Regions from separate parts of the Homo sapiens genome. Here region 1 is linked to region 2. The links come from fine-mapping of genetic effects on gene expression. A gene starts in region 2. The other region holds a variant in brackets. All regions are shown on one strand. Distances are from middle to middle.

The links. PIP is the estimated chance that this variant, and not a neighbour inherited with it, causes the effect.
Region 1: its variant is fine-mapped to the expression of SLC25A3 in whole blood (TOPMed, PIP above 0.99).

The regions. Positions count from the first base shown.
Region 1 is chr12:98,626,033-98,635,365 of GRCh38, reverse strand. It overlaps IKBIP (IKBKB interacting protein), which reads left to right. Exons shown (of 3, transcript NM_153687.4): 2 at 953-1,070; 3 at 8,600-9,333. Among named protein-coding and RNA genes, the nearest start is that of IKBIP, 14 kb to the left of the region's middle. The variant G/A (reference allele first, on the strand shown) is at 5,302.
Region 2 is chr12:98,588,912-98,598,402 of GRCh38, reverse strand. SLC25A3 (solute carrier family 25 member 3) reads right to left here and starts at 4,717. Exons shown (of 8, transcript NM_002635.4): 1 at 4,663-4,717; 2 at 4,268-4,428; 3 at 2,555-2,676; 4 at 368-547. The coding sequence starts at 4,424. It also overlaps the pseudogene PPIAP8. RefSeq lists enhancers at 2,700-2,929, 3,678-4,302, 4,626-4,725, 4,303-4,927, 4,976-5,195.

The DNA of each region.
Region 1 (9,333 bases), 37 kb before region 2:
CCCAGCGCTTTGGGAGGCTGAGGGGAGGATCACTTGAGGCCAGGAATTCAAGACCACCTTGGGGCTGGGCACAGTGGCTCATGCCTGTAATCCTAGCACTTTGGGAGGCCAAGGCGGGCAGATCACTGGTCAGGAGTTCAAAACCAGCCTAGCCAACATGGTGAAACCCCATCTCTACTAAAAATATTAAAAAATTGGTGGGGCGTGGTGGCAGGTGCCTTTAATCCCAGCTACTTGGGAGGCTGAGGAGGAGAATCGCTTGAACCCAGGAGGCAAAGGTTGCAGTGAACCGAGATCGTGCCATTGCACTCCAGCCTGGGCAACAAGAGCAAAACTCCATCTAAAAAAAAAAAAAAATACCGGGCGTGGTGGCTCACGCCTGTAATCCCAGCACTTTGGGAGGCCAAGGCAGGTGGATCACAAGGTCAGGAGATCGAGAGCATCCTGGCTAACACAGTGAAACCCCGTCTTTACTAAAAATACAAAAAATTAGCCAGGCGTGGTGGCAGGCGCCTGTAGTCGTAGCTACTCGGGAGGCTGAGGCAGGAGAATAGCGTGAACCCAGGAGGCGGAGCTTGCAGTGAGCCTAGATCGCGCCACTGCACTCCAGCCTGGGCGACAGAGTGAGACTCCATCTCAAAAAAAAAAAAAAAAAGGCTAAAGACCACCTTTGGCAACATAGCGAGATGGACAGTCCTAGCTATTTGGGAGGTTGAAGTAAGAGGATCACTTGAGCCCAGGAGTTCAAGGCTGCAGTGAGCTATGATTGTGACACTGCATTCCAGCCTGGGTGACAGAGTGAGACCCTGTGTGAAAAAAAAAAAAAAAAAACCTACAGCTACCCATACCAGAATTTATGTTGTTCTTAACAGAAGTGGGTATAATTCTCCTTTGAAATTCGGATTTAAATGGATATGAATTGGAGAATAGTGATTTTTCTTTTCTTTTCCAGGTTTGTATTTCAGCAGTCAGAAAAATTTGCAAAGGTGGAAAACCAATACCAGTTACTGAAACTAGAAACCAATGAATTCCAACAACTTCAAAGTAAAATCAGTTTAATTTCAGAAAAGGTAATCATTAATTGGCTTATCTGGGACGGTTTTCCCATTTTACTACCCCACTATCATTTCTCTATCCCAGCTCAGAACTTCTTTCTTCCTGCCTTTTAGACCATCACTATTTTAACTCTCACTGATCTTCCTACCTCTTGACATTCTCCCTCTGAGCCATTTTGACTCAGATTGCATTTTGAGGGGCAAGGATTTTTTAATATGATAATTTCTAGTATTGAAAAAGACCAATTTGTTCATATTAGCATGATGTTAATTTTCTACTTAAGTGTCAGGTATCTAGAGCATTGAAAATATGGTTGATCATGTCTACAGCCATACCACCCTGAATGCGCTCGATCTCATCTGAAAATATGGTTGATCTTTGGACATAAAATTAGAATATGAATAGCACTTATTGGGAAAAGATCTATCCATTTTTTCCCTTACTTTTTGCTTTTTAAGGATATATGTACATGCATTTAAGAATGGCTAGCCTAGGCTGGGAGTAGTGGCTCATGCCTTTAATCCCAGCACTGTGGGAGGCTGAGCCAGGCAAATCACTTGAGGTCAGGAGTTAGGAGACCAGCCTGGCCAACATGGTGAAACCCCATCTCTAGTAAAAATACAAAAATTAGCTGGGCGTGGTGCACACGCCTGTAATCCCAGCTACTCGGGGGGCTGAGACAGAAGAATCTCTTGAACCTGGGAGGTGGAGGTTGCAGTGAGCCAAGATCACACCACTGCACTGTAGCCTGGGCTATAGAGCGAGGATCCGTCTCAAAAAAAAAAAAAAAAAAAAAAAAGAATTAAAAAAAAAAGAACGGCTAGCCTAAAAGTAACTATTTGTCCTGTAGCCAAATAAGAATTCCAATGAAAATTAAAATAATACCATGTCTATATTGTGTTCCTTCAAGTTGCTGATTTCTACCAGATGCGTTATTACTGTGATTCTTAGAAATGTGAGACAAATAAACATTTTTGTAACTCCCACACCTCTCAGGAGAAAGTCAAAGTCAGCTGTGATCAATAAGGCATCATGTAGGCCTATTCTGGGTACCAGGGACCAAGCTATCATTGGGAAATATGGCTTTTTGTTCATTTATTCATTCACTAAACCTTTGCTCATGTCACAAGGTAAGCAAGGACCTATGCTTGGCACCAGGGTGGGTAAGGATGTTGTAAAAATAGAGATGAAATGGAGCATCTAAGTCCCTGCAGCCCCATGCACAGGATGAGCATATAATCCTCCAGAAGAGAAAAGCCATGGAGGAAAATTAAGTATCCCTCACAAATGCCAGGGGATTCCATGGATGGTGAGTGTAAGGGATTTGGGGAAGGAGCTGCAAAGGAGTTGGTATTTTCACATAGGGCTCAAATTGGAATCTGAGCCAGGCGTAGTGGCTCATGCCTGTAATCCCAGCACTTTGGGAGGCCAAGGCAGGCGGATCACCTTGAGGTCAGGAGTTCGAGACCAGATTGGCCAACATGGCGAAACCCTGTCTCTACTAAAAATACAAAAATATTAGCTGAGCATGGTGGTTCATGCCTGTAATCCCAGCTACTTGGGAGGCTGATGTATGAGAATTGCTTGAACCTGGGAGGCAGAGGTTTCAGAAGTGAGCTGAGATCATACCACTGCACTCCAGCCTGGGCAACAGAGTGAGACTCTGTCCCAAAAAAAAAAAAAAAAAAATTGGAATCTGGTTGTAGCTGTTGGGGGAACTCTAACATACCATTAGAAGAAATCCCAGGGGCAAGAAACTTCATATATATATATATATATATATATATATATATATATTTTTTTTTTTTTTTTTTTTTTTTTTTTTTCAGATAGAGTCTCTCCCTGTCATCCCAGCTCTCACTCTGTCATCCAGGCTGGAGTGCAGTGTTGGAATAACAGCTCAACCTCCCAGGCTCAAGCACTCCTCCCAACTCAGCCTCCCAAGTAACTGGGACTAACAGGCACGCCACTGCACCCAGCTAATTTTTTTTTCTTTAATTTTTTGGAGAGACGGGGTCTTGCTACATTGCCCAGGCTGGTATCAAACTCCTGGCCTCAAATGACCTTTCTGCCTCTGCCTCCCAAAGAATTGATATTACAAGTGTGAGCCACTGTGCCTTGCCAAAACTTCACATATTTAATTAAAAGCTATTGAAGGCCGGACGCGGTGGCTCACGCCTGTAATCCCAGCACACTGGGAGGCCGAAGCAGGCAGATCACGAGGTCAGGAGTTTGAGATCAGCCTGGCCAACATGGTGAAACCCCATCTCTACTAAAAATACAAAAATTAGCTGGGCGTGGTGGCGGGCGCCTGTAATCCCAGCTACTCGGGAGGCTGAGGCAGGAGAATCACTTGAACCTGGGAGGTGGAGATTGCAGTGAGCTGAGATCACGCCATTGTGCTCCAGCCTGGGCAACAGAGTGAGACTCCATCTCAATAAATAAATAAATATAAATAAAAGCTATTGAAAACTTATTTTGAACAAGATTTCTCCTTTTTTTTTTTCTTTTTTTTTTTGTGGGGGAGGTCAGGGGTGGTACAGAGTTTCACTTTTCTCATCCAGGCTGGAGTACAATGGCTCGATCTTGTCTCACTGCAACCTCCGCCTCCCGGGTTCAAGTGATTCTCCTGCCTCAGCCTCCCGAGTAGCTGGGACTACAGGTGTGTACCACCACACCCGTCTAATTTTTGTATTTTTGGTAGAGACGGGGTTTCACCATGTTGGCCAGGCTGGGCACGGTGGTTCACACCTGTAATCCCAGCACTTTGAGGGGCCGAGGTGGGTGGATCACCTGAGGTCAGGAGTTCAAGACCAGCCTGGCCAACATGATGAAACCCCATCTCTACTAAAAACACAAAAATTAGCTGGGCATGGTAGCGTGTGTCTGTAGTCCCAGCTACTCAGGAGGCTGAGGCAGGAGAATCGCTTAAACCGGGGAGGCAGAGGTCACAGTGAGCCGAGATTGCACCACTGCACTCCAGCCTGGGCAACAAAGTGAGACTCCATCTCAAAAAAAAAGCTTTTGAAGCAGATTTTTAAAATATCATTATAGAATCCAAAAAATATTCAGTCTTGGCCAGGCGTGGTGGCTCACACCTGTAATCCCAGCACTTTGGGAGGCCAAGGCAGGTGGATCACCTGAGGTCAGAAGTTCAGGACCAGCCTGACCAACATGGAAAAACCCCATCTCTACTAAAAGTACAAAAAATTACCTGGGCATGATGGTGCATGCCTGTAATCCCAGCTACTCGGGAGGCTGAGGTAGGAGAATTACTTGAACCTGGGAGGTGGAGGTTGTGGTGAGCCGAGATCATGCCATTGCACTCCAGCCTGGGCAACAAGAGCGAAACTCCGTCTCAAAAAAAAAAATGAAAAGAAAAAAAAGAAATATTCAGTCTTTTCGTAGCTTTTTCTCCCATTCTGCCCTGGGAGTAATTTAATAAGAGGTCCCTTTTCACAAAGGTGGCCCTAAAGGGCAGCATAACCCAGATGGAGGGGAAAACAGCTAGACATGGACACCCATCCCAACTGTGTGACCTTAGACAAATCACTATAACTTATCTTCATCTCTATTTCATCATTTATTAAGTGAGAAATAATAAGATTTTTATAAAGATCAGATGAGATATACAGTAAGTCCTCAACGTCATCAATAGGTTCCTGGTCATCAATAGGTTCCTGGAAACTACGATTTTAAGTGAAGTGTATAATGAAACCAATTTTTTTCTCATCTACGTTGTAATGAAAGGACATCGAAACAACGTTGTTGGAGGAGCTGCTCTGAATAGTTCCACTTAAAGTCAGTTTCCAAGAACCTACCAATGACGTTAAGTGAGGACTTACTTTATATACAAATTCTTTGAAAACAATCAAGCACTAATAAAGTACTAGCTCTTTTTTTTTTTTTTTTTTTTTTTTTTTTTTTTTTTTTGCCCAGGCTCTTGTTGCCCAGGCTGGAGTGCAGTGGGGAGATCTGGTCACTGCAACCTCTGCCTCCTGGGTTCAAGCAATTCTCCTGCCTCAGCCTCCCAAGTAGCTGGGATTACAGGCATGTGCCAACATACCCGGCTAATTTTTTGTATTTTTAGTAGACATGGGGTTTCACTGTGTTAGCCAGGATGGTCTCAATCTCCCGACCTCAGGTGGTCCACCCGCCTCAGCCTCCCAAAGTGCTGGGATTACAGGTGTGAGCCACCGCACCTGGCCCTACTAGCTCTTTCTTTAAGAAAAAATGAGACCCGGT[G/A]TGGTGGCTTATGCCTGTAATCTCAGCACTTTGGGAAGCTAAGTTGGGAGCATCACTTGAGCCTGGCAGTTTGAGACCAGCCCAGGCAACATGGTGAGACCCCATCTCTACAAAAAAAATTTTTTTAGTAAATAAAAATGAAAAACGATTAGAATATGTTGGTGGCCCATAAATGCTAGCTACTGTGGCATACTAGTCACTAAATATTTGCAGATTAAATCTATAACATCTTGCACTTACTTGGGGTATACTGCTTTCAGATTATAGTGAGGCTCTGATGAACCTCCTAAACAGGACATTACCTTAGGTGAGGATAAGCTTGCCTCTTCAAAATACTGCTAATAAAACAACTAAACCTAACCATGTTAATGGTTAGTATTTCTCATAATTGATTTTAAAAGGAACTTGTATTATGGCTGTATGTGTACATTTAAAAGAGGTTTTTATTTCTTTGGATTTTTTTGTTTGTTTTCTTTAAATGTGTGTGTGTGTATGTATGTATGTTTGAGACAGGGTCTTGCCCGGTCACCAAGGATGGAATGCAGTGGCATGATCATAGCTCACTGCAACCCTGAACTCTTGGGCTCAAGGAATCCTCCCACCTCAGCCTCCCAAGTAGCTGGGACTACAGGCGCACACCACCATGCCCAACTAATTTTGTTTGTTTGTTTGTTTGTTTGTTTGTTTGATAGAGACAGGGTCTTGCTTTGTGCCCAGGCTGGTCTCAAACTCCTAGGCTCAAGCAGTCCTTCTGCCTTGGCATCCCAACATGTTGGGATTAAGGCGTAAGCCACCATGCCCAACCCTTAAAATAAATTTTAAACAACATTTCAGAGTGGTGTTAGTCATTCTTGTTGCATACTCTTTAAGTCTTGATTGGGGTGGACCTAGAAGGCTTAGGGTCATTCTTCCTAAGCATCAACAAACATATTCTTTGTACTCTGAGATGTAGGGATTACACAGAGGCATAAGACATGGTCTCTTCTCCTTTGAAATTTAGAAGCTTTCACATCTTCACCCTGCTAATTCATCAATCAGTCTGTTAATGATTCCAATTTTGGAGCCACTTCCAGGCCTTTTCGCATTGCCCTCCTAACTTTTTATCTCTCCTCAAAGCATCCATTGCCCCCTGTGCTAATTCTTTTGTGACGCTACTTATAATCTACTGTGATTTTTTTGGTTGCTAGTTTATCTCCTTTACTCCTCTTTAGAGCATACACTGCATCTTTTATCTCCATTTCCCTAGTACCTGATAATGGAACTACCTCACACAGGGTACTCAGTAGATCTTGTTGGGACTCTAGAATATATGATGTGGAAGATCTAAACACTGTCTCCCAATCAAATTGTGAAATCAAGGACTATGCTGTATTTGTCTCCACTGTCTCACACAAGGCTGGCACAGAGTGAACCCTCAAAATTTTTTAATTGTATGTGCTAAGAGGCAAATATGTGGCAAATATATGTGTAATAGGTGCTACAGGAATTCAGGTTGTCAGGGCTAGGGCTATGGAAGAAATGCTGCTCTGAGGAGCTGAGATCCGGTCTGAGCCTTGAAGTAAGGACAATGTAACTAAATAAAGAGGAGAGGAGGATAGCATAGGGAGAGGTTAGAGAATTTGAGACTTTATCCTAGAAGTATTAGGAAACATCAAAGGTTTTGTAACAGTGTACCATGATAGGCATACCAGTTTTTAAAAGCTTAGTCTAGTAGTAGTGTGTAGGCTAATTTAGAGAGCAAGCAACTGGAAGCAGATATTAGATATTACTTTTTCTAAAATACTTTCCTTCATCACTGAAGTCTAGGTTGGGTCTCCACCTGAGTGCTTCCATAGCTCTTCACCTGTCATAGTGCATATACACTTGTCTTTCTCGTCGATTAAACAAAGCTGCTTAAGGGCAGTATTTTGTATCTTGTTCAGTATTATGTCTTCAGCATAATGCTGCAAGCACATAATAAATTAATGATTATTTCTAGGCCTTCCTGTAGTCTCTAAAGCTGTTATCTAAGTGTAGACTAAAAGAGGTCAATGACTTGGCCTTCTATATTCCAGATACAGATTAGGAGGTGCCGGAGGCTTAGCATAATTTACAAATACTTAAAACACTTTACCATTCAATTTGACTTGTCTCACTAAACTGTTTTTTAATTCATTGTTGCCTTTGTATCTGTAAGACCTGATTCTAGTACTTTCTCTGCAAGAGGTTGGTCAAAAAAATTTTTTGGCAGAAACCCTTCCAGAATTATAGGATTTTAGGAAAGATATCAAATTGTATACAAAGTTGCAGTTTCTAAAAAGCCAAAAAACCATAAAAATGACATCGAGGGCTGGGCGCGGTGGCTCACGCCTGTAATCCCAGCACTTTGGGAGGCTGAGGTGGGCGGATCACGAGGTCAGGGGATCGAGACCATCCTCGCTGACACGGTGAAACCCCGTCTCTACTAAAAATACAAAAAATTAGCCGGGTGTGGTGGCGGGCGCCTGTAGTCCCAGCTACTCAGGAGGCTGAGGCAGGAGAATGGCTTGAACCTGGGAGGCGGAGCTTGCAGTGAGCCGAGATCACGCCACTGCACTCCAGCCTGGGCGACAGAGCGAGACTCCGTCTCAAAAAAAAAAAAAAAAAGAAAAAGAAAACTGACATCAAAGTTACTTACCATTAGAGTTAAAAGGAGGAAATTGCATCTATTTCAGGCACTTTAACATTACTTTTCTCTTGTATATGCTTCCATAGAAATGCTGAAATATCTAGGATTGTGTGTTCAGGTGTATTTTTTTTTTTTTTTAACATAGTGCTGGCCAGGCGCGGCAGCTCTCGCCTGTAATTCTAGTACTTTGGGAGGCCGAGGCAGACGGATCACTAAAGGTCAACAGTTCAAGACCAGCCTGGCCAGCATGGTGAAACCCCATCTCTACGAAAAATACAAAAATTAGCTAGGCATAGTGGCGCGTACCTGTAATCCCAGCTACTCAGGAAGCTGAGGCAAGAGAATACGTTGAACCTGGGAGGCGGAGGTTGCAGTGAGCTGAGGTTGCTCCACTGCACTCCATCCTGGGTGACAGGGTGAGATTCCGTCTAAAAAATAAATAAATAAATAAAACAATGCAGGGTTAACGTATTTGTGAAAACTATTAATGTAATAAATATCTTTGTCAGTCTGATTCTGATATACTTGGATATTTTAGACATCTTCAGAATTTTAACGTGGCATGTGTTATGCTCCTGATTGTTAAAGTGTGTTTCTCTAATATGAAAATTATTAAGTAGCCTTGGGAATTGTTTTGTGTTATAAATGCAGCTTGAGTCTACTGAAAGCATCCTGCAGGAAGCTACATCATCCATGTCTTTGATGACCCAGTTTGAGCAGGAAGTATCCAACCTCCAAGATATCATGCATGACATTCAAAATAATGAAGAGGTGCTCACTCAAAGGATGCAAAGCCTTAATGAGAAATTTCAGAATATTACGGATTTCTGGAAGAGAAGCCTAGAAGAAATGAACATTAATACAGACATTTTCAAATCAGAAGCAAAACATATACATTCTCAAGTAACTGTCCAAATTAACTCAGCTGAGCAGGAAATAAAATTGCTCACTGAACGGCTAAAAGATTTGGAAGATAGCACACTAAGAAATATTAGAACAGTAAAAAGACAAGAAGAAGAAGATCTCCTGCGAGTAGAGGAGCAGCTAGGCTCTGATACAAAGGCAATTGAAAAGTTAGAAGAGGAACAGCATGCCCTCTTTGCCAGAGATGAAGATCTGACTAATAAACTTTCCGACTACGAACCCAAAGTTGAAGAATGCAAGACACATTTGCCAACAATTGAAAGTGCTATTCACTCTGTTCTCAGAGTCTCTCAGGATCTGATAGAAACAGAAAAGAAAATGGAAGACTTGACTATGCAGATGTTTAATATGGAAGATGATATGCTGAAAGCAGTGTCTGAAATAATGGAGATGCAGAAAACCCTTGAAGGAATTCAGTATGATAATAGCATATTAAAGATGCAAAATGAACTGGATATTCT
Region 2 (9,491 bases):
GGAATATATATGTGGTCTCATAACCTCATTAACAAAACACGTAACTATGTGAACAACATGAATATTCAAAAAATATCTAGATGCCATGCCCCGGAACTACGCAAAGGAGTCCCAGAGCCCTTCTCTAAAAAACTCAAAATCCAACTTACTTAGAAAACAAGATAGTATATTAAAAGGAGAATTGTAATTTAATGAAATACATTTATCAACCTGTCTCTGCTGACACAGGCATACGATTTAAAACAAGTTGCTCACTTTGTAGGACCATTTTCTTCAGTGCTAAAATAAGGCAAGACAGACAAAAATCTAAGAACACTCGGAAAGTCTTAAACACTCGGAACATTCAATTTTAAAGTTAATTACATACCTCTCCAAGCATATTGCTATACAAGACTTTAAAGACTTCATAAAAGCCAAACTTGCAGAGTCCCTGCATGGAGTAGCCAAGGAAAGTCGGAGCCCATCCTTTAGCCAAACCACGAACACCATCCTCTTTAAGTGTAACTGAGAATCCGTTAAATATGCCCTTGTACTTTTGGGGGTCCACCTTTATTTAAAACAAGAAAAAAAAAATTAAATGCACCAAACAGCTAACATAAAAATTTAATCTCATGATTATTTTTGTTTGGGTTCCATAATAAATTTCAGCAACTACACAAAAGGTAACTACAGTAATTCCTGCCAGGCACGGTGGCTCACATCTGTAATCCCAGCACTTTGGGAGGCTGAGGCAGGTGGATTACCTGAGCTCAGGAGTTCAAGACCAGCCTGGGCAACACAGTGAAACCCCATCTCTACTAAAATACAAAAAATTGGACGGGCATGGTGGCGTGCACCTGTAATCCCAGCTACTCGGGAGGGTGAGGGTGAGACAGAACAATCGCTTGAGCCTGAGGGAGGGAGGTGGAGGTTGCAGTGAGCCACGATGGCACCACTACACTCCAGCCTGGGCAGCAGAGCAAGACTCCATCTCAAAAAAAAAAAAAGAAATACAGTAGCTCTCCCTTATCCAAGAGTTCATTTTCTGTGGCTTCAGTTATCCAAGGTCAACTGACATCTGAAAATATTAAGATATTTTGAGTGAGGAACTACATTCATATAACTTTTATTAGTTTATGCTTATCACTGTTTATTATTGTTCATTTGATTACTTTTATAAATAGAAACTGTTGTACATTAAGGTCTAGCTTTCTGTGTCAAACCTAAGTCTTGGAGTGATAGTTAAGAGGGTAAAATTTCAACAAAAGCTTTCTGTGTCAAACTTAAGTCTTGGAGTGATAGTTAAGAGGGTAAAATTTCAACAAAAATACGTAACAAAACTGATTCTTAACAGATTTCTTACCACCCAACTCCTACTACTTTTTTTGTGTTTTTTGTTTGTTTGTTTTTTGAGTCTTGCTCTGTAGCCCAGGATGGAGTGCCATGGTGTGATCTCAGCTCACTGCAACCTCCACCTCCCAGGTTCAAGCGATTCTCCTGCCTCAGCCTCCCGAGTAGCTGCGACTACAGGCACGCCACCATGCCCAGCTAATTTTTGTATTTTTAGCAGAGATGAGGTTTCACCATGTTGGCTAGATTGAGTTCTGATCTCGAACTCCTGACCTCAAGTGACCCACCTGCTTCGGCTACCCAAAATGCTGGCATTCCAGGTGTGGGCGACCATGCTTGGCCCACCTCCTACTTTTTAAAAGCTACTGTCTAGATAATAGATATAACTGTATTCCTAACATATGCTAGTTCTTTAAGTAGCTTATAGCATAAAGTTTTGTGAACACTAAACAAACTAAACACAAGTTAAAAAAAAAAAGCACATAAACTAAATTCACTTCAAGAGACATGCATAACACGTTTTAGCAAAGGTACATTTCATATCCATTACATTAACTAATGGGGGGGGAGGAAAAGCTTATCTATTTCTGCCAGTACTAGAAGGGATGGTATACATCACCTTCCTCTCCCTCCTAATATTTCAAATTCATTTCTCTTTTAGGTAAGTAGACTTCTAATCCAGTTTGGAACAAATAAATTTTCGATGTCTTGTTTTTGTTTCAATGATCTTAATTAAAATATATTCAAATTATTTTAAAATGTTGTGTAAATAAACAAGAGGCTAATCTGACAAAATTTTCATACTAAGATATTAAGAGCACTTTAAATAAATCTACATGTACTCTTTGCCTTGGTCTTATTAGTAGATAAAGGACATTGTTACTTCACATAATACACAGACTTGTTTACCCACTCCAACACATAGGTGCTTGTTAAATGACTATTTGGGGCACTAGTAAGCTTGAAGAACTCCGGCCAGAAGTGAAGAGCAGCAGCAAAGAGCCATTTACAGCCAGACTCTAAAAGTGAACAATTTACTCAAACAATAGAGGCATTTATTGGATTTAAAACACTAGTCAAAATAAAGCCCACAATTTAAAGAAATTCTATGTGGTTTCCTACTGAAGTTTCTAGCAGTTGTGATGTCTTCAAATTCTCATTTAAGATTTTATTTAGAGTTAAGTCACATGAGAGATACTTTCAATGTTGTCATCTCAATACAAACCTGCATACGGCATTTCACTAAATCCAGGGGAACCACAGCAGTGTGTGTCAGACCACAACTTAAGACCCCACCAAAGCCACACAGTGCATAATACTTCGCGGAGCCAAATTCACAACTGTACTCTGTAGTAAGAGAAGACACACCATGCATTTTAATATAAAACTCATGTTACTGGTCATAAACTTACCTCCTGGACAGTTAGGTTTCCACACAGCTTGTTAGATGACTATATCTTATAACTTAACAGTCAGTCATGCTTCAATATGCTCTAGTCCAGCATGCAAAACAAACCTGCATTCTGCATTTAACCAGATCTAGAGGAACCAATGCTGTATGTGTTGTGCCACAGCTAATAATTCCTCCAAGTCCACAAAGGATAAAGAATCTGCCAGATCCATAGTCACAGCTATACTGCTCTGTTTGATTGGAAAAAAAAAAATCAAGTAAGTATTTCTTCAGAGATGACTAAGGCCACTGGAATGAAAGAAAATGTTTCCCTGTGAGATACTATTATCACAGCTGAATAGCTTTGGCCACAATTAAGTGGCTTAAAAAAAAATTCACTGCCAAATTCAGATCATTTAAAAATTATGAGGGTTCTGTATCTGATACTATTAATAGCTCGTATTCTGCCATATTAATTTTTTTAAAAGTTTTCTACATTAACGGCTTTTACAATTAAAGTCAAACTTCAAATTATTAACCACTGGTAAGAGCACACTTCAGAGTACAAACGAAACTCAGAAAGATCACTCGACATGTAAAAGGCTTGCAAACAACTTCAAAGTTTATCCCAGCCACTAACCAATACTATCCCCACTTAAGAACTCCTGTAACATAAAAACGGATACGCACAAATTCCTGCAGTCAAATACATTTAATACACAAATAATGTTAGCTTTAACTTTTAAACTGAACGACAGATAGTGTAAATAAGGACTCTATCCATACTAAAGACAACAGAAGCACATGAATGATTTAAAGAAAAAAATCTTTCGATTTTACAGGCACAAGGTAGATAACATTCTTAGGACTCCTACAATTCGGTTTTCAGGTTTCTCTGTATGTACATACTTCACTAGGATTTAAAACACACACAACTAAGTTAAAGCTGGGCCCAACCACCAAGAATCCCAAGAGATAATCACACCAAAGGGACGCCCACCAATTATCTCCTTTCTATTGCCTATGTAGGGCTGCAAGCTGCCTCCTCCAGTCGCACGAAAACAGGACATCTAGTTATCTCATATACAATTAAGTGCAAAAATGACTGACCTGGCGTCGACAAATATAAAACTTAGGAAAGGACTATTTTTAAGAAAACTAAGGGCAAATCAAAGGACAGGTAATATAGTTAGTAGAACTGTGGGTGGTCAGTAGTTTCGGGAGGAGAGTTTACCCAGTACTTAGTTTGCTGACCAAGCGAGCTCACGGCGGAGAAAGAGCTAGTCACGGCCTCTCTTCCCTCGGGCACACGGAGGTCACGAAGGGACACAGGGCCTCAGCGCTTCCACGCCCTTGAGGGAAGGCCAAGGATCTGACACCCGCCTATGGTGGAAAAGGCCGATACCCCAGGGCAAGCAACTGGGCGCCGTCCTACGGTGCAGCGGGCTGGACTCGTCCTTCCCTGTCCTCCAAGCCGGGTCCAGGCCTCAAAGGCTGGGCGGCCCACAAGTAGACCACACGACTGTATTGGGCAGGGTCTGATCTCACCTTCCACGGCGGCGGCTGCCAGGTTGCGAGGGCGGCGGGGCTGGCCCGTGGGCCCTGGGGAGCTGCTGCGGAGGTCCCCGAGACCATCGTGCACCAGCTGCAGATGTGGCGTGTTGAAGGGGTTCGCCCGCGCCAGGTGCGCCACGGACGAGAACATCTTTCTAGGGGAGGAGGGAGCGACGGTTAGAGGACAGGCAAGGCGCCGGTTAACGTTACCGGCGCCCTGGAACCCCAACCGGGGCCTTTTCCTTCCCGTCTCCACGCCCTTGAAGAGGTCACGGCGGCCTTCGAAAGAGGCTGCTCCCGGCTGGGCCCACCGCCAAAGCAGCGGCCCCACAGGAGCTCTGGGCTCCGCTCCCCACACCCGCCACAGGAGAAGGCCCGGCCACACTCACTCCCTAAGATGGCGATCACACAACCACTCCCTTGGAAAGGTTGCGGCTCACAGAGGCCGGACGTCCTCCGGGTCCTAAGATGTGTGCCCTTCGCGCGTCGTCGGCGTGACGCACACAGCGCGCCACTGCAAGTACGCGTCGCCCATTGGTGGAGAAGAGCGCCGAGCCCGTAGCGTCATCGCGTTCTCCTAGCAACCTTATTCCCGCCCCTGCCCGCCCCAGCTCTTCCGCCCGGCTTGTGCGCGGGAGGATTCGTTCTGCGCAGGCGCGCGTTCCGGGTCTATATTTTTTGAGAGGGGTCGGGCTCGAGCTCTTACCCTGCTCGCTTTGTCCCTTCACCTTCAGGTGTCTCTCCTTGACCACGGGCTTCAGTTCGCTTCACTTAAGTGAATCACAGTATCTAGTAGTCACTTAAAAAACAAAACAAAACGCGAATGCTTGATAATATATTTAGGTGTTGGAGTTACAACATCACTGCAGTACTTTGTGTCACAACTTCTGCCATTACAGTACTTTTTAAAATAAGTTCCATCCATTGACATTAAACATAGGTATGTCTGTATTTTTCATCAGACTCCTGGAGAATATTTTAAAAAGAAATGTGCAGCAAGAAGTCTTACGACAGCTTGCCGCGTTATCACAGTAATCTACAGAACACGTTGAAACATTGAACTCCTGAGATGTTACAGCGATGAACTACTGAAAGTGACTGATAGCAGATTGTGCGTGTGTGTGGTTAATACATTTAGGAAGCTTTCATTAGATTCAGCTCAACAGGGAGGGGCGTAGTTTAGTTGGGGAGAGTTTAATAGGGATTCAACCTGTTAGACTTCTGACTCTTATATTTTCCAAGCTCTTGACAAAGTAACCTTGGGAATTTACTTCATCTCTGTGTACCTGTTCCCTAGATGTAAGATAGGGGTGGGACTGGCCTCATAGGTTCACACTGGTACAGTCACACATGGCCTTACACTTCATTTAATGCTCTGCTGTCATTTTGATTTTTTTTTTTTTTCTTTTGAGATGGAGTCTTGCTCTGTCGCCCAGGCTGGAGTGCAGTGGGGCGATCTCAGCTCACCGCAACCTCCGCCTCCCGGGTTCAAGCGATTCTCCTGTCTCAGCCCCCGGAGTAGCTGGGACTACAGGCGTGCACAACCACGCCCGGCTAAGTTTTCTATTTTTAGTAGAGACAGAGTTTCGTCACGTTGGCCAGTCTGGTCTCGAACTCCTGAGCTCAGGTGATCCGCCCACCTCGGCCTCCCAATGTGCTGGGATTACAGGCCTGAGCCACCATGCCCGGCTTGAAATTCTTAATACATGTATGAACAAGGGGCCACGCTTTTTTTAGTTTGCACTGGACCCTGCAAATCAGGTGTCTGGTTCTGGATGGGAGTAATACTTACCTTGCAGAGTCTATGAGAACTCAATGAGATAATGTCTAAAAGTCTACAGAAGATGTTACCTAAAAAAAGTTAGCATTGGCCGGGCGAGGTGGCTCACGCCTGTAATCCCAGCACTTTGGGAGGCCGAGGCGGGCAGATCACGGGGTCAGGAGATCGAGACCATCCTGGCTAACACGGTGAAACCCCGTCTCTACTAAAAATACAAAAAATTAGCCGGGCGAGGTGGCGGGCGCCTGTAGTCCCAGCTACTGAGGAGACTGAGGCAGGAGAATGGCGTGAACCCAGGAGGCAGAGCTTGCAGTGAGCCGAGATCATGCCACTGCACTCCAGCCTGGGCGACAGAGCAAGACTCCGTCTCAAAAAAAAAAAAAAACAAAAAAACAAAAGTTAGCATTGAGGCTGCGGCATCACGGCACTCTCTAAGCAACCCTATCCCAGACCCAGCCCTTCTGGCCCAACTAAAGTCCTACAGTCCCAGGAAGAATTCCAGAGTGGAGGGCACAGGAAGGGAAGTAGTGACAGATAAAGTTAAAAAAGTACACTAGCACCTGATTGTCCAGGGCCTCACATACCAGACTGAGGAGTCTGATCTTATGTAGACAGAGGTAGTCACTGAAGGGTCTGGACTTTCTCTCTCTCTTTTTTGGTTAATTCAACTTTATGGTGCTTTTCTAATTTAAAAATCCTTTGTCATGAAAAAGTCAAATATTATGTAAAAATATATGACTGTAGTGAATCTTCCTATTCCCTTCCCCCAGCACCGGGTAATACCGTGACCCTTTGCTGCACATTTTTTCAGCTGGAACAGCTGGTACCCTTCACCATGGGGCTGCACATGCTCGTGGCCCAGAACTCACAGAAGTTGATCTAGAAGATACAGTGGTAACTGAAGGAGCTGCAGGCCCAGCTCCTACCCCATGTGGGAGCTGGTGACCTTCAGAATGTAATGACTGTTGCTCCACTTCTGCCTTCCAAACTGCACACATTTCTCTTATAGCTAGCCCTAACCCAAAACTATGCAGGGAAAGGAATCTAGGAAATGTGGTTCTAGCCTAGCTAAGTTGACATGGTAAAAAAAACACCACTGGGCTTTGCAGGCACCGCTGCTGCCAGGAGCCCTGTGCTATCAGCCATGGTCAACCCCACCGTGTTCTTTGACACGGAGCCCTTGGGCCGCATCTCCTTTGAGCTGTTTGCAGACAAGTTTCCAAAGACAGCAGGAAACTTTCATGCTCTGAGCACTGGAGAGAAAGGATTTGGCTATAAGGGTTCCTGCTTTCACAGAATTGTTCCAGGGTTTATGTGTCAGGGTGGAGACTTCACATGCCATGATGGCACTGGTGGCAAGTCCATCTACAGGGAGAAATTTGATGACAAGAACTTCATCCGGAAGCATACAGTTTCTGGCATCTTGTCCATGGCAAATGCTGGACCCAACGCAAACAGTTCCCAGTTTTTCATCTGTGCTGCCAAGACTGAGTGGTTGGATGGCAAGCATGTGGTCTTCAGCAAGGTGAAAGAAGGCATGAATATTGTGGAGACCATGGAGTGCTTTGGGTCCAGGAATGGCAAGACCAGTAAGAAGATCACCATTGCTGACTGTGGGCAACTCTAATAAGTTTGACTTGTGTTTTATCTTAACCACCAGACCATTCCTTCTGTAGCTCAGGAGAGCACCCTCCACCCCATTTGCTCGCAGTATCCTAGAATCTTTGTGCTCTCACTGCAGTTCCCTTTGGGTTCTATGTTTTCCTTGTTCCTTTCCATGCCTAGCTAGATTGCAGAGTTAAGTTTATGATTATGAAATAAAAACTAATTAACAACAGCAACAAAAAAAGTACCAGAGTCTATCGGTTGTCAACATGGCATCAATGAACACCTCTTGTAATCATATTTAACTTCCAGACAAAAACTAAAGAGCAAAATCAGACTTCTACCTAACATGAAGCAGCTGTCCCTTGGACAATTGTGAACAAGCTAATTCTACCCAAAAGAGGATACAAAATCCTTTTATCCGTCTTTAGGTGATGTTATTGCAGCAGGTATGGACTAAGACAAGGGGGTTGGCCTCCTTAACATTCAAGAGGCTCTCGGCCTCCAACCTGACACAAGTAGGGAAATTGCCTGAAGGACCATAACTCTCCACTGTGGAGATTCAAATCTGCCTCCCGGGTTCAAGCAATTCTCCTGCCTCAGCCTCCGGAGTAGCTGGGATTACAGGCACGCGCCACCATGCCCGGCTAATTTTGTATTTTTAGTAGAGATGGGGTTTCTCCATGTTGGTCAGTCTGGTCTCGAACTCCCAACCTCAGGTGATCCACCTGCCTCGGCCTCCCAAAGTGGACAGTAGGTTTTAAGAAGAATCAGCAGATCCCGCCAGGCAACCACCTCAGGTGAGGCCATTACAGATTTCACAGGGACGAGGAACATAACCTCCTCAGACAGGAGAGGAAGGGCTTCTTTGACTGACAAGGAGGCTCAACAGAATTTAGGGGTTCTGGCTGGGCATGGTGGCTCACGCCTATAATCCCAGAACTTTGGGAAGCCGAGGTAGGTGGATCTCTTGAGTCCAGGAGTTAAAAACCAGCCTGGACAACATGGTGAAACCCTGTCTCTTAAAAAAAAAAAAAAAAAAAAGCCAGGCATAGTGGCATGCCCCTGCAGTCCCAGCTACGCAAGAGGCTGAGGAGGGAGGATCACTTGAGCCTGGGAAGCAGAGGTAGCAGTGAGCCGAGATCGCGCCATTGTACTCCAGCCTAAGCAACAGTTAGAGATCTTGTCTCAAAAAAGAAAAAAAAAAAGAATATGGGGGTTCATGGTCCTAGTGGAATCATAATCTGCCCAGGTGTCACTATTCCAAAATTTTGGGTCTCAAAACATTGCCCTAACTTTAAACACTATGAGATTGGGAATTCAATTTGCATTGTAATTCAGAATTAGATTTTGAGTTTGATTTTTAGAAAGTACAGTCTTGCAGATACAGCAAAGCAGTCAAGGCGACCAGGTGCGGTGGCTCATGCCTGTAATCTCAGCACTTTGGGAGGCCAAGGTGGACGATCACAAGGTCAGGAGTTCAAGACCAGCCTGGCCAAGACGGTGAAACCCTGTCTCTACTAAAAATACAAAAATTAGCTGGGCGTGGTGGCGCGCGGCTGTGGTACCAGCTACTCAGGAGGCTGAGGCAGGAGAATCGCTTGAAGCCAGGAGGCTGGCAGAGGTTGCAGTGAGCCGAGATCACACTATCACACTCCAGCCTGGGCAACAGAGCGAGACTCCATCTCAAAAAACAAACAAAGCAGTCAAGGCTTTCTGGTCCTTTATCTGATGTTGAACTGAGAAGTTAAAGCCCTAAGTTATCATTTTCTTTCCCCCAGTTATCCAACATAATTAGAAGAAGCAAACCAATCCAAAGCATCTGCTTGGTCA